4 linked regions of the Homo sapiens genome follow. The protein of the gene in region 1 interacts with the protein of each later gene in a pairwise test. Each region holds a gene or a part of one and is shown on either strand. Other genes may lie near its edges.

What was found. Proteins that work in one complex are often made in the same cells at the same time.
Region 2: the proteins of HSF2BP (region 1) and ZGPAT interact in binary tests that used the Homo sapiens proteins (3 or more experiments, as listed by UniProt).
Region 3: the proteins of HSF2BP (region 1) and CIMAP1D interact in binary tests that used the Homo sapiens proteins (3 or more experiments, as listed by UniProt).
Region 4: the proteins of HSF2BP (region 1) and ARHGEF5 interact in binary tests that used the Homo sapiens proteins (3 or more experiments, as listed by UniProt).

What each region holds. Positions count from the first base shown.
Region 1 is NC_000021.9:43,530,489-43,533,988, forward strand, and holds part of HSF2BP (heat shock factor 2-binding protein), read right to left. Parts: intron 1-3,500. UniProt on the Homo sapiens protein: Meiotic recombination factor component of recombination bridges involved in meiotic double-strand break repair.
Region 2 is NC_000020.11:63,732,039-63,734,340, forward strand, and holds part of ZGPAT (zinc finger CCCH-type with G patch domain-containing protein), read left to right. Parts: intron 1-1,180; coding exon 1,181-1,314; intron 1,315-1,548; coding exon 1,549-1,701; intron 1,702-2,302. UniProt on the Homo sapiens protein: Transcription repressor that specifically binds the 5'-GGAG[GA]A[GA]A-3' consensus sequence. Represses transcription by recruiting the chromatin multiprotein complex NuRD to target promoters.
Region 3 is NC_000019.10:472,184-476,193, reverse strand, and holds the start of CIMAP1D (protein CIMAP1D), read left to right. Parts: upstream 1-1,210; 5' UTR 1,211-1,446; coding exon 1,447-1,573; intron 1,574-3,562; exon of another isoform or gene 3,563-3,692; coding exon 3,693-3,800; intron 3,801-3,885; exon of another isoform or gene 3,886-4,010.
Region 4 is NC_000007.14:144,375,902-144,379,401, forward strand, and holds part of ARHGEF5 (rho guanine nucleotide exchange factor 5), read left to right. Parts: intron 1-1,218; coding exon 1,219-1,289; intron 1,290-2,860; coding exon 2,861-2,965; intron 2,966-3,500. UniProt on the Homo sapiens protein: Guanine nucleotide exchange factor which activates Rho GTPases. Strongly activates RHOA. Also strongly activates RHOB, weakly activates RHOC and RHOG and shows no effect on RHOD, RHOV, RHOQ or RAC1.

The DNA of each region.
Region 1 (3,500 bases):
CTCAATAGTCTAATAACCATCATCTTCAAATATTACAGTCATACAATTTTAAAGTGTTAAACTAGAAAGATGAGGGCTTTCTCTGTTTGCTAGTGAGGACTAAACTCTGATTTTTTTTATCTTGCCCAAATTCCTATCTAAGGGGTCTGGGGAGTCATGTCCTACAAATCACAAATTCTCATCAGATGGGTTTTATTTAACCCTATATATCATGACTTTCCAACCTGACTCTGGCATAACATTATGAGACAAGAAAGAAAATAAAAATACTTTACCCCAAAATATGTTTCTTTGCCATATTTTGAAATGGCCCTGCAAAGCTGTTCTTTGTGGGGGAAAATCTGCATTTGTAAAGAATCTCTACTAACATAGCTAGATCTTTTTCTTCGAGACCCTCCTAATCCTAAAGAGATTAACTAAGATCTGAATAGGAAACATCTGTCATCTATTGTCTCTAAGGCAGCCACCATAAGACTTCAAAAGAACTTGGATGTCCACAATCTTTACCTTAACCTGAACATTCCCTTTCTATCAATCCCAGGTCTTTATCAATCAGAAAATGTTTAAATTCACCTATAGCCTGGAAGCCCCACGCCCCCCAGCTTTGTCCCACTTTTCTGGACCAAACCAATGTATTTCTTAAATGTTTTTGATTGATGTCTCACACCTCTCTAAAATGTATAAAGCCAAGCCGCACCCAACTACCTTGGGCACATGTTCTCAGGACCTCACTCATATTTGGCTCAGAACAAATCTCTTCAAATATTTTGCAGAGTTTGACTCTTTGTCGACAGTAGCATTCTGTCCACTTATAAGATTGTTTTAAAAAGTATTACTTCTTTTTCACTCCAATTGCAGCAAATCCCTCAGGGACCACATACAGATACAGCACTTATCAGGGCCACTGAGTTTACACAATGTCACTGGGTATATAAAATTCACGTTGTTTATTTTCCATGGGAATGGCCCCAGGACTTATAGAATCTGGTAGCCTTGCATACATTGTAGCAACCACTAAAAAATAGCTAGACAAACCCACTGGAAGCTTCAATCCATCACCAGAGTGGAGCCAACTTTCCTTACCATTCCTCTCTACTGGCAGCCTTTACGATGCCGTAAATTCACTCCTTGACTGGGTACTGCAACTGGAACCAGGCTCAAAATCAGCACCTCTTTCTTAGCACATTTACTTAACAAATAAAAAAATTAAAAAAAAACCTTTTAAGATGTAGACTGAAAGAGCAGACTGAACAGTCTCTCAGTGGGAGCTGCCACAGCACTAAGCCCTAACAAGAAGCTTCTCACCTACAGAATCAGAAGACTGCTGTGGCCAGGGAAGATAAAAGGCAATCTGCTCTAGCCCTCAGGGAGGGTCCAGGAGCCATCTTAAGCCAGCCTGTTAGAGTCCTCCTACTTTGGGGGAAGGGAGGGGAACTTTCTCTAGTAGAGACCTGCCAAAGATAAGGGGCAGCTAAGGCAGACACAGAGGCAAGGCCAAAAGCCATGGGTGAAGACGCTTTGGCAACTCAGCCCTCATCCTAAGCTCAAGGAAAGGTTAGAGGAATTTGAAGCCAGTGGGATGGAAGGTACATACACAACAACAAAACCCAGACCCACCTTAACTCCCCAACAATGAAAACCCAGCGGAAAAAGAGGAGTGGCCATTCCTGAATATAACACTATCTACCCACCTCATTCCCCTCTACAGAGAGGGTACGCATGGCCCAGAGGCCAAAGGTAGCCCATGACCCGTTTCTGTACAGCCTGCAAGCTAAGAATGGTTTTACTTTTTTTTTCTTCTTCTTCTTCTTCTTTCCTCCTCCTCCTCCTCCTCCTCCCCCCCCCTCCTCTCCTCCTCCACCACCTCCTCCTCCCCCCCCCCTCCTCCTCCTCCTTTTGGAGACAGGGTCTTGCTCTGTCTCCCAGGCTGGAGTACTCTGGTACAATCATGGCTCACTGCAGTCTCAATCTCCTGGGCTCAAGCCATCCTCCCACCTCGGCCTCCCAAGAAAGAGGGACCACAGAACATGTGGCCACGCCCAGTTAATTTTTCACATTTTTTTGTAGAGACGGTGTCTCACCACACTGCCCAGGCTGGTATCAAACCCCTGGGCTCAAGCAATCCTTCCACCTCAGTCTCCCAAAGGGCCAGAATTAGAGGCATGAACCATTGCAGCCTGCCAGGTTTTACATTTTTTAAGGGTAATTTTTTAAAAGTAAAAACCAGAAGAATAACATGCAACAGGGACTACACGTGGCTCTCAAAACTCAAAATATTTATTTGGCCCATTACAGAAAAAGTTTTTTGACCTTGCCTACTGCCCTCCACACAATGTCCAACACTGAAATCAAAAATTACAATGAAGAGGCAATGGAGGCCAGGCGCAGTGGCTCACACCTGTAATCCCAGCACTTTGGGAGGCCAAGGCGGGCGGATCACGAGGTCAGGAGTTTGAGAACAGCCTGGCCAACATAGTGAAACCCCATCTCTACTAAAAATATAACAATTAGCTGGGTGTGGTGGCGCACGCCTGTAATCCCAGGTACTCAGGAGGCTGAGGCAGGAGAATCCCTTGAACCCAGGAAGCAGAGGTTGCAGTGAGCTGAGATTGCGCCACTGCACTCCAGCCTGGGCAACAAAGTGAGACTCTGTCTCAAAAACAAACAAACAAACAAACAAACAAACAAACAAAAGAAGGCAAAGGAAACAAAAGGCTCATTGTCAAGTGACAATCAACAGAAGCAGACACACAGATAACCTGGAATAATAATACAGGAATTTCAGAAAAAGAATCTGAAATAAATATGATCAATAGATGGGAAAACACTGTTTTAAGGTACTTACACTATACCTGAAGCAGCGGATTATTATTTAAAGGTAAACAGTCATGCAATGTATAACATTTCAGAGAGCTTCATTGTCAAATTCTATCAAAAAATTAGAACAGAAATAATAGAAATTTTAAACAAGTCTTCCAGAAAACAGAAAAGGAGGAAATAAGTCAACTTTTTTTTATGAGGCCAGAATTACACTGACACCAAAACTAGATAAAGATGTTAAAATAAAAGAACAGACCAATATCCCTCATAAACAAAGACACGAAAATCCTAAACAAAAAAATAGCAAATTGCATTCAGCAATATATAAAAAGGATAATACTTCACAGCCAATAGACACTTATTCTAGGAATGGAAGGCTGGCTCATTATTTGCAAATCAGTCAACATCACCTACCGTAACAACAGACTAAAGAAGAAAAAAAAAATTATCTCTTCAATAAATGCAGAAAAGCCTTTTGACAAAATTCAACATCTGTTCATAACAGTAATAATAATAATAAACCCTCAACAAAACAGGAATAAAAAGGAACATCCTGAACCAGATTAGGGGCATCTACAAAAAACACACAGCTAACATCATACTTAATGATAGAAGACTGAATGCTTCTTTCCTAAGATGACGTACAAGGCAAGAATATCCTATCACCCCTATTCAAAATC
Region 2 (2,302 bases), on another chromosome or scaffold:
TGCAAGTGTGAGTGTGTATATGCATGTGTGTATATGCATGCCATGTGTGTGCATGTATGTGTATATGCATATATGAGTGAGTGCACGTGACAGTCTACACGTGAGGGTGCATGTGTGTGCGCGTGTGGGTGACTGCATATGTGTGTGCATGTGTGGGTGCGGGTGCATCTGTGTGTGCATGTTTGGGTGCGGGTGCATGTGTGCGTGCACGTGTGTGTGGATGAGAGGTCGCATGTGTGTGGGTGAGGGCGTGTGTGTGTGCATGTGTGTGGGTGAGGGGGCATGTGTGTGCACGTGTGTGGGTGAGGTGTGTGTGTGCATGTGTCAGGGTGTGTGTGCGCGCATGTGTGTGGGTGAGGGCCTGTGTGTGCGTGTGTGTGGGTGAGAGATGTGTGCGCATGTGTGTAGGTAAGGGTGCTTGTGTGCGCATGTGTGTGGGTGAGGGCGTATGTGTGTGGGTGAGGGCACGTGTGCGCGCGTGTGGGTGAGATGGCGTGTGCGTATATCCATGTATGACTGCATCTGTATTTGCATGAGTTCATGTGTGAGTGCATGTTTATACGCGTGTCAGGGTCTCTGTGTATGTGTATGACGTGTGAGTACATGTGTTAATGTGTGTGTACATGTGTATATGCCTGTGTGCATGTGTGTATGCATGTGTATACATGTGTACTTGTGTATGTGTATATGTGTATGTCTGTATATGTGTGTGTATGCCTGTGTACGTATGTATATGCGTGTGTGTATGCATGTGAGTGCATGTTTATGCGTGTGTATGTGTACTTGTGTGTGCCTGTGTGAGTGCATGTGTGTGTACATGTGTATATGCGCGTGTGCGTATGCGTGTATGTGTACGTGTGTATATGCATGTGTGTGTATATGCCTGCATGTATATGCACAAGTGTGTATATATGTGTATGTGTGAGTGTATGTGTGCATGTGTATCTGTATGTGCGTGTGTATATGTGCATGTGTGTATGTGTGCGTGAGTGTGTGCATGTGTGTGTGTATGTGTGCGTGTGTATGTGTGTGCGTGAGTGTGTGAGAGTGTGTATGTATACGCACGCGTGTGTGTCTGTCTCCCTCAGGACAGTGCCCAGGCGGATGGGTCAGTGCTCCTGGGTTGGTTTGCCCCTGGTGGCCCATGTCTGAGCCCTGCCCCTTACGGCTCTGTCTGCAGGTTCTCCCATGGGCAGGTGGTCTCTCTGGATGAGCTGCGCCCCTTCCAGGACCCAGACCTGAGCTCCCTGCAGGCCGGCTCTGCGTGTCTGGCCAAGCACCAGGATGGCCTCTGGCACGCAGCACGCATCACCGGTGAGGCTGGCCGTGGGGGCCTCCCGGGAACACCCTCCCAGGCCCCACGTGTGTTGTCACTGTGTGGCTGCTCCCTGCTTCCTTTGGGTTGAGTGTCGGGACTCTGGCTCTGGGCCCGAAATGAGCACACCTACCCTCAGCCTCTGCCCTGCCTTGCTCCTCATGTCCAGGGTGGTTCCCTTCAGTGGCACCTGCTGTCAAGGATTCTGACCTGCAGCTTGTCTCTGCCCCCAGATGTGGACAACGGCTACTACACAGTCAAGTTTGACTCGCTGCTGCTGAGGGAGGCCGTGGTGGAGGGGGACGGCATCCTGCCCCCACTGCGCACAGAGGCCACAGAGTCCGACTCAGACAGCGACGGTACGGGTGACTCCAGCTATGCCAGAGGTATGGCAGCAGCTGCGGAGCCCAGGAGCCAGGAAGGTGGGGTCACCCTGAGAGGCTCCTGGCCGGTGAGGGCACCAACCATCTAACCAAACTATTGGAGAGTGTGTGACTGCGGCGAGGGTGCCACCTGTGCCTGAGGAGGCCGTGTGGGTAGGGGTAGATCCGTGGCGGCCTTTATCTTCAAGGAGTGTGGGTGCAACAGCTACAGTCTCATTGATGGGAGGCCATGGTCGTGGCTGTGGCCATGGGAGAGGAGGGGCCTGGAGTTGCCGAGGAAGTCACAGAAAATGACCAACTGATGGGGCCTGGAGTGCAGGAGGGGCAGCTCCTCTGCATGGCTTCTCAGACTTGGGACCTGGGTGCCTGGGATCCTGGCAGACAGAGGTTGTGTCCAGACAGCCAGCATGGAAGTTTCGGGAATGGGAACTGGTGGGCAGTGTCCAGCTCTCCAGAGGGGTGTGTGTATGCGTGTGCGTGTGTGTGTATATATGTGGGAGGTCACCTGACCCAAGCATGGCGGGCTGAGTCCAGGAGGGGTCTGCATGTTGGAGGTGTACCCAGGGATCAGTGATGGTGGTTTCTGAAGCCCCATGTCCCTGGT
Region 3 (4,010 bases), on another chromosome or scaffold:
GTAATTAGCTACTAAAAATACAAAAAAATTAGCTAGACGTGGTGGTGCATGCCTGTAATCCCAGCTACTCGAGAGGCTGAGGCAGGAGAATTTCTTGAACCCTGGAGGCGGAGGTTCCAGTGAGCCGAGATCGCGCCACTGCATTCCAGCCTGGGCGGGGGAGCAAGACTCTGTCTCAAAAAAAAAAAAAAAAAAAAAAAAAAAAAATTAGCCAGGCGTGGTGAAACCCCATCTCTACTAAAAAATATAAAAATTAGTCAGGCGTGGTGGCGGGTGCCTGTAATCTCAGCTACTCAGGAGGCTGAGGCAGGATAATCGCATAAACCCGGGAGGCAGAGGTTGCAGTGAGCCGAGATCGCACCAGCGCACTCCAGGCTGGGTGACAGAGTGAGACTCTGTCTCAAAAAAAAAAAAAAATTACACTGCAAAAGGCTCCAAAAAATACAGAAACAAACAAGGAAGAGACAGGAACGTGCATCTCATCTGGCAGTTTTCTGAGCCTCTTCTTGGAGCCTCACGCAGTGGTCGCCTTGAATGTATCAAAATCCATTGTGGTTTAAATCTCGGAGGCATCTGGGAGGCAGTGAGGACGGCTCTCACCTCCCCGCTGTCCTCGCCGCTGCCCCAGGGCCTCTGCACGGCTGCCTCCTCACCTGCTTTGGGACTGTTCAGTTTTACCTTCTCCGTGGGGCTCACCCACACCCACACTGCTACCCTGGGCCCCAAACCTGTCTGCGTTTTCCCTCACGTTCAGTGCCTCCTCATACACCAGACTGTGTTCACTTATCACATTTACTGACGACTTTCTCTCTCCCATCCTGAGAACATCTCCTTCTTTTCCGTCTGTTCGTGTCCAGTTCTCACCACCCCCAACAGAGGCTGGTACACAGTAGGTGCCCAGTACATGCTTTGGCAGGAATGAGTGACAGGATGAGGCAGTGAATGCTTCTTGGCTCAGAGCTGAAACTCCCAGAGTTGTGTACTTGCTGTATGACCTTGGGCTGTGCCTCAGTTTCCCCAGGTGTAGAAACGGGGCCACGCCACCCACGACCCCGCCAGGCCCTCCTGCTGCAAGGCTGTGGGTGTCATGTTTGCAGGTCTAGTTCCCTGGGGCCGGCCCTGGCCCCAGCTGCCCAGCTCTGCCGGCTCCCGGGAGACGCACTCTGCTGACACCGGACTCTTTCCTGGACCATCCAGCCGCCTGGCCGACACTCGATCCCGGCCCCACTTCCAGGCCAGTGTCCGGCCGACCAGCCTGCCTTGGGCCAGGGCCCCACGACTCCCTGCTGCGGGACAAGAGGCCGTCTGTGCGGCTGTGGTCGTGGGAGGGTGTGGTGAGGCCGTGAAGGTGGGGACGGTGCCTGGGCCTGTGGCCGCCAGAGCTGCTGCGGCTCAGAAGGTAGCACCAGGCCCCGTGGGTGCTGTGGGGGCCATCGCCTGCCCACCATGGGGACCCTCAGCTGCGACTCCACCCCACGGCTGGCCACAGCCCCCCTTGGCCGGCGAGTGACGGAGGGCCAGATTCCGGAGACCGGCCTGAGGAAGTCCTGTGGGACGGCCACCCTGGAGAACGGTGCGTGCCAGCCGTGGGGGATGGGTGGGACCTTTTCCTGCTCCACTCCCCATACTTCTGGGGCTTCTGGAATGTTCTGGGAGCCCAGCAGGAGGCAGGAGTTTCAGGCAAGTCCTTGCCCTTCCCCAGACCTCAGTTTTCCTTCCGGCAGGATGGGTGTGGACACGGGGTTGCCGTGAGCCCCGAGTATGTGTCTGTCCAACGGAAGCTGCGTGCTTTGCCAGCCGGGTCCCCTTCCAGGGGCTGTGGGTACAGCAGTGGGCAAAGCCACAGCGATCATGCGGGAGACGCGGGGAGGAGGGAATATTTCCAGCGTGGCCCTCAGGGACGGGCGCCCTAGACAACGTGGGGCAGGGCGAGGGGCGCGTGTGCGGAGGCGGCTCTGCTGGGAGCCACATCAGCTGCTGGCCTCGGTGAGGGCCCAGGACGGGCCGCAGTTTCCTCACCCACAATTAGCGGCTGGAGTCAGGCCCCAAGCCAGGTCCTCGGGCTGGTTCTGTGGTCTCTCCTGATCCCTGTGGCATCGAGATTCTGCAGAAGCCACAACACATGGCGTCTGTGACCGTGTATCTCTGGGAGGCTCAGGCCTCAGTCTCCCCATCTGTGATCGTGTATCTCTGCCTGGGCCTCAGTTTCCCCATCTGTGACCGTGTATCTCTGCCTGGGCCTCAGTTTCCCCATCTGTGACCGTGTATCTCTGCCTGGGCCTCAGTTTCCCCATCTGTGACCGTGTATCTCTGCCTGGGCCTCAGTCTCCCCATCTGTGACCGTGTATCTCTGCCTGGCCCTCAGTTTCCCCATCTGTGACCGTGTATCTCTGGGAGGCTCAGGCCTCAGTCTCCCCATCTGTGATCGTGTATCTCTGCCTGGGCCTCAGTCTCCCCATCTGTGATCGTGTATCTCTGCCTGGGCCTCAGTTTCCCCATCTGTGACCATGTATCTCTGCCTGGGCCTCAGTCTCCCCATCTGTGACCGTGTATCTCTGGGAGGCTCAGGCCTCAGTCTCCCCATCTGTGACTGTGTATCTCTGCCTGGGCCTCAGTTTCCCGATCTGTGACCGTGTATCTCTGCCTGGGCCTCAGTCTCCCCATCTGTGACCGTGTTTCTCTGCCTGGCCCTCAGTTTCCCCATCTGTGACCGTGTATCTCTGGGAGGCTCAGGCCTCAGTCTCCCCATCTGTGATCGTGTATCTCTGCCTGGGCCTCAGTTTCCCCACCTGTGACCGTGTATCTCTGCCTGGGCCTCAGTTTCCCCATCTGTGACCATGTATCTCTGCCTGGGCCTCAGTCTCCCCATCTGTGACCATGTATCTCTGCCTAGGCCTCAGTTTCCCCATCTGTGACCGTGTATCTCTGGGAGGCTCAGGCCTCAGTCTCCCCATCTGTGACCATGTATCTCTGCCTAGGCCTCAGTCTCCCCATCTGTGACCGTGTATCTCTGGGAGGCTCAGGCCTCAGTCTCCCCATCTGTGACCGTGTATCTCTGGGAGGCTCAGGCCTCAGTTTCCCGATCTGTGACCGTGTATCTCTGCCTGGGCCTCAGTCTCCCCATCTGTGACCGTGTATCTCTGCCTGGGCCTCAGTTTCCCCATCTGTGACCATGTATCTCTGCCTGGGCCTCAGTTTCCCCATCTGTGACCATGTATCTCTGCCTGGGCCTCAGTCTCCCCATCTGTGACCATGTATCTCTGCCTAGGCCTCAGTTTCCCCATCTGTGACCGTGTATCTCTGCCTGGGCCTCAGTTTCCCCATCTGTGACCGTGTATCTCTGCCTGGGCCTCAGTCTCCCCATCTGTGACCGTGTATCTCTGGGAGGCTCAGGCCTCAGTTTCCCCACCTGTGACCGTGTATCTCTGGGAGGCTCAGGCCCCAGTCTCCCTGTCTGTGCCCCAGGGTGAGGGGGGCTGCTGTCCCCAGCTTTTCCTCTGTGATTCATGTCTGACTCACAATGCAGGCATCACATTTTGTCCCCGACGGGCAGCAGCCTCTTGCTCCCCGGGGCCCCCAATCCTCACCATGGAGGGAGAGGGGAACCCAGGCTAAGGCTCAGGAGCTGGGTCCAGGGCTCCTTCTTCGGGGAATCTGGGCCCAGGAGGTGACCTGAGGGCTTTGGGCTGCAGGCTCGGGGCCAGGCTTGTATGTCCTGCCGTCCACCGTGGGCTTCATCAACCACGACTGCACCAGGGTGGCCAGTCCCGCCTACTCGCTCGTCCGGAGGCCCAGTGAGGGTAAGGCGGGCGAGTGGGCGGCTGGAGGCTTCCCTGATCCTCCAATCTCCCCCCAGGAGCACTGATGGGTCTCCTTACCCCTTAGATCCAGGCCCCCAGTTAGTGCGGCAGGAAGCAGGCAGGGCTGGGCTGTACAACCTGCTCCACCTCCTACTTACTGTGAGACCTCAGGCAAGCTGCTGTCCCTCTCTGTTTTTTCATTGATAATGA
Region 4 (3,500 bases), on another chromosome or scaffold:
TTTTATACTCTTTACTCAAGAGGGACAAGGTCTGTGTAGTATCAGAAAGGAGAAGGACTGGTATGGAGTGAGCAAGGAATTGGAATACTGGTATCTGTGAGCACATGCCTCCATGCCTGAGGCAGAAACCCTTCTATGCCCCAGCTGGTGGGCACAGATGTGAATAAGACAAGTGCTGGGTGACTTTTACTTTCTGTGCTCCCATCTTCCAAACCAGTCCTCTATTGACCAGAAATCCATAGTGTTGAGAATGCTGATTTGCTCATGTTTTCAATAATAATAAAATAAAATACATTCACACAGACATACATTTTTGAGAGTATTAATAGTACCTATAAAATCTGGAACACAGTGCCTGCAATAATGAACATGTAAAAGCCTGTAGCTGTTATTGCTATTATAAAAGATATATGAACAGTCATTTAAAAGTTTGACGTATCTAAGTGTTTGAGGATCCCTATGTTGTAGACACTTTTTCAGTTTTGTCCCTTGGAAGATACTTCAGAGTGGGACCGATAACACCTGTTCTCATTTATTGAACAGAAGGACTAGTATCGGAGTTTGTGTGCAAAACAGCACATAAGTCAAATAATCAGGTGCAGATGCATGTTGTTGGTTTGGTGCTTTGGGCACTGTGCCTGGAACAGTAATAGTCCATTCCCAGTTACCTAGGCACAACTGGGCACAGAGGCTAACAGAATGCAGAAACCTTCAGATGATTACAAACCTAAGCTTGGATTACACCGTGCAACAACAACAAATAAAACAGTAGACATATCTCCCTGATCTAATTATTATTATGAAACAATGATCATCTCTGAGATAGTTAGTTGAAGGGAGATAGGCAAGCGAGTGTCAAGAATCATGCCAAATGATGGAGGGAATCTAAACTGAAATGAACACTTCGCTTAGCACAATTTCCAAAACAGAAAATCTCCAGACTTTATGACTAATGAACATTACGCCCCAACTTGGAAGATATGAGAAGCCATTAGGAGGATAATTCTGGAAAGAGAAGAGGAAAAGTAAAGTGTGACAAGACACATTCACATATAGTTCAAGATTGTGTCATGTTTCCAACCAAAAAGAGTCCTATATAGTGTTTGATAGAAGTCATGGAACTAGATAAGTCCTTCCCACAGTCTTTTGCCATCCCCATCCTTGGCCCTCCTCCTACACCCCCACAATTGATGCTATGACCCTGCTTTGTTTTCTCAGAAGTGAAAAGCTTCGGTGGATCTCAGCCTTGGCCATGCCAAGAGAGGAGTTGGACCTTCTGGAGTGTTACAGTGAGTGAGGGTCTAAGAGGGAGAGAAAAGAAAGCAGGGTCAGATGTCACCTTTGGATACAGGAGTTTAAAGGGCTGGGTGGGAACTCTAGGCTTTCATTTATTGATATTCCGTAAAATGTCAGGGTGGAAGATTGGCCTCTAGAGCTTAAAAACCTGAAATATATCGCCTAAAACTGCTCATCACTATGGCAGTCCCCCTTCCCCATACATTCCCTTCCTTGGGCAATAGTTTGCTCTTTTTAAAAATATTTGTCCCCTTAAGTCTAAGCTGACATTATTTTGCCTAGATTTTACCTGCTTGAAGGTCTTGTTGGGGTAGGGGAAGAAAGCCTGACGGTGGTAGAAGGTGTGCAGGAGGATAGCACCCCAGATCTATCTTGACCACACCTAAGAGGATGACCTGAGGTCACCTACCCCAGGCTTCTGGGTGCCCATGGGGAGCCACAGGCACACACACATTATGTATGTGTCTGTGTTCACACCAAGACTGGACTTCTTATGCCTCTCATGTCAGCCCCACAGTTGTCCTCCAGCAAAGATTCCCTAATTTAAATCCAGAGAGAATCTGACCTCAACCCTGGACCTTTAGTGACTGAAAAGAACAAACAACTACAAGGAACCCTGGGAATGAAGTAGGAGAGCCGTGTAGTAACTGAACGCTGTTAACTTGCTCACTGTGCACTCCATCTGCTGGCTTCAGTTCCCCAGTGGGTGAGGAGGGCAGGAGCATTCTTCCTCCTTCATTTTGACCTTGTGAATGGCAGATGGGGAGGATCTTGAGAAAGCAAATAGTAATGCAGTATTCCATTTATTTTACAAGAGAATCAAGGCAGTGTAGTAACAAAAAAGAGCCATAAACCCACATATGATGGAATACTGATAGGTGAAGCATTCTCTGAGGCTTGTTTTCTTGAGCTTCAGATCTATGGACATGTCTCCTGGTTCTCAAAAACATAGAAATAGAGAAATCTTGAATGTCCTCAAGATTCATCTGATCAACCTTGATCAATAACCATCTTGATCACTGATAGATGAGTAAACTGAAGCTCCAGGGCTTTCAGTCTCTGGCTTAGGTCAAACCTGGGACACCACTAGTTAAGTCTTTCTTGGTTCCACATCTGGTACTGGGAAGAAAATGAAGAATAAGACACAGACTCAGATTTTATAATCCAGTTGGAGAGGCAAAACACGTCCATGTAGCAGTTAAATAAGGGATAAATGCCTTGGCATGAACAAGCAGTCTTAAAAGAGTTCAGAACCCATTGAAGACTAGAGTCAGGGACGGTTTCAGAGGGAAGATGGGTCATTAGCTGGATCTCAGGTATTTGAGATGATCACATGTATTTCTCAACCCGTCTCCTCTGGAGAAGTGGAATTTTTGGTCCATTTCATTTCTGGTATGTCTATTTCTTTATTAACCATTTTCAAATTTCCTCTTTTGTCTGTGACTTTCAACAGCCCAAATCTGTCTCTATCTCAAGTCCTCCCACGCCACCCCCCTCCAAGTCCCTGTCTGTGTTCCAATCCCCTGCCTCTCCTAACCTCTCTTCACACTCTTCTCTTCCAAAGACTCCCCCCAGGTACAGTGCCTTCGAGCCTACAAGCCCCGAGAGAATGATGAATTGGCACTGGAGAAAGCCGACGTGGTGATGGTGACTCAGCAGAGCAGTGACGGTAAGCGGGAGCATGCGTGAGCAGCAGGCCAGGCACTGCAGGCAGGGCAGTGCTGGGAGTGTGTTCACTTCCTGCAGCTGCCATGACAAAGTACCATGGACTGGGTGGCTTATGGCAACAGAAATGCATTCTCTCACAGTTCTGGAGGCAAGAAGTCCCAAATCAAGGTGTGGGCAGAGCCACGCGTCTTTTGAAACCTGTAGGGAAGATCCTTCCGTACCTTTTCCAGTCTGGTAGCCCCAGCTGTTCCTTGGCTTGTGGCAGCATCCCTCCAATCTCTGCCTCTGTCTTCCTGTGGCTAGCTGCCTTCCTGTGTCTGTGTCCAAGTTTTCCTCCTTTATTTTTTTATTTTATGTATTATTATTATTTTTGAGACAGAGTCTTGCTCTGTTGCCCAGGCTGGAGTGCAGTGGCGCAATCTTGGCTCACTGCAACTTCCAACTCCTGGGTTCAAGTGATTCTCCTGTCTCAGTCTCCCAAGTAGCTGCGTGAGCCACCACACCTGGCTAATTTTTGTATTTTTAGTAGAGATGGG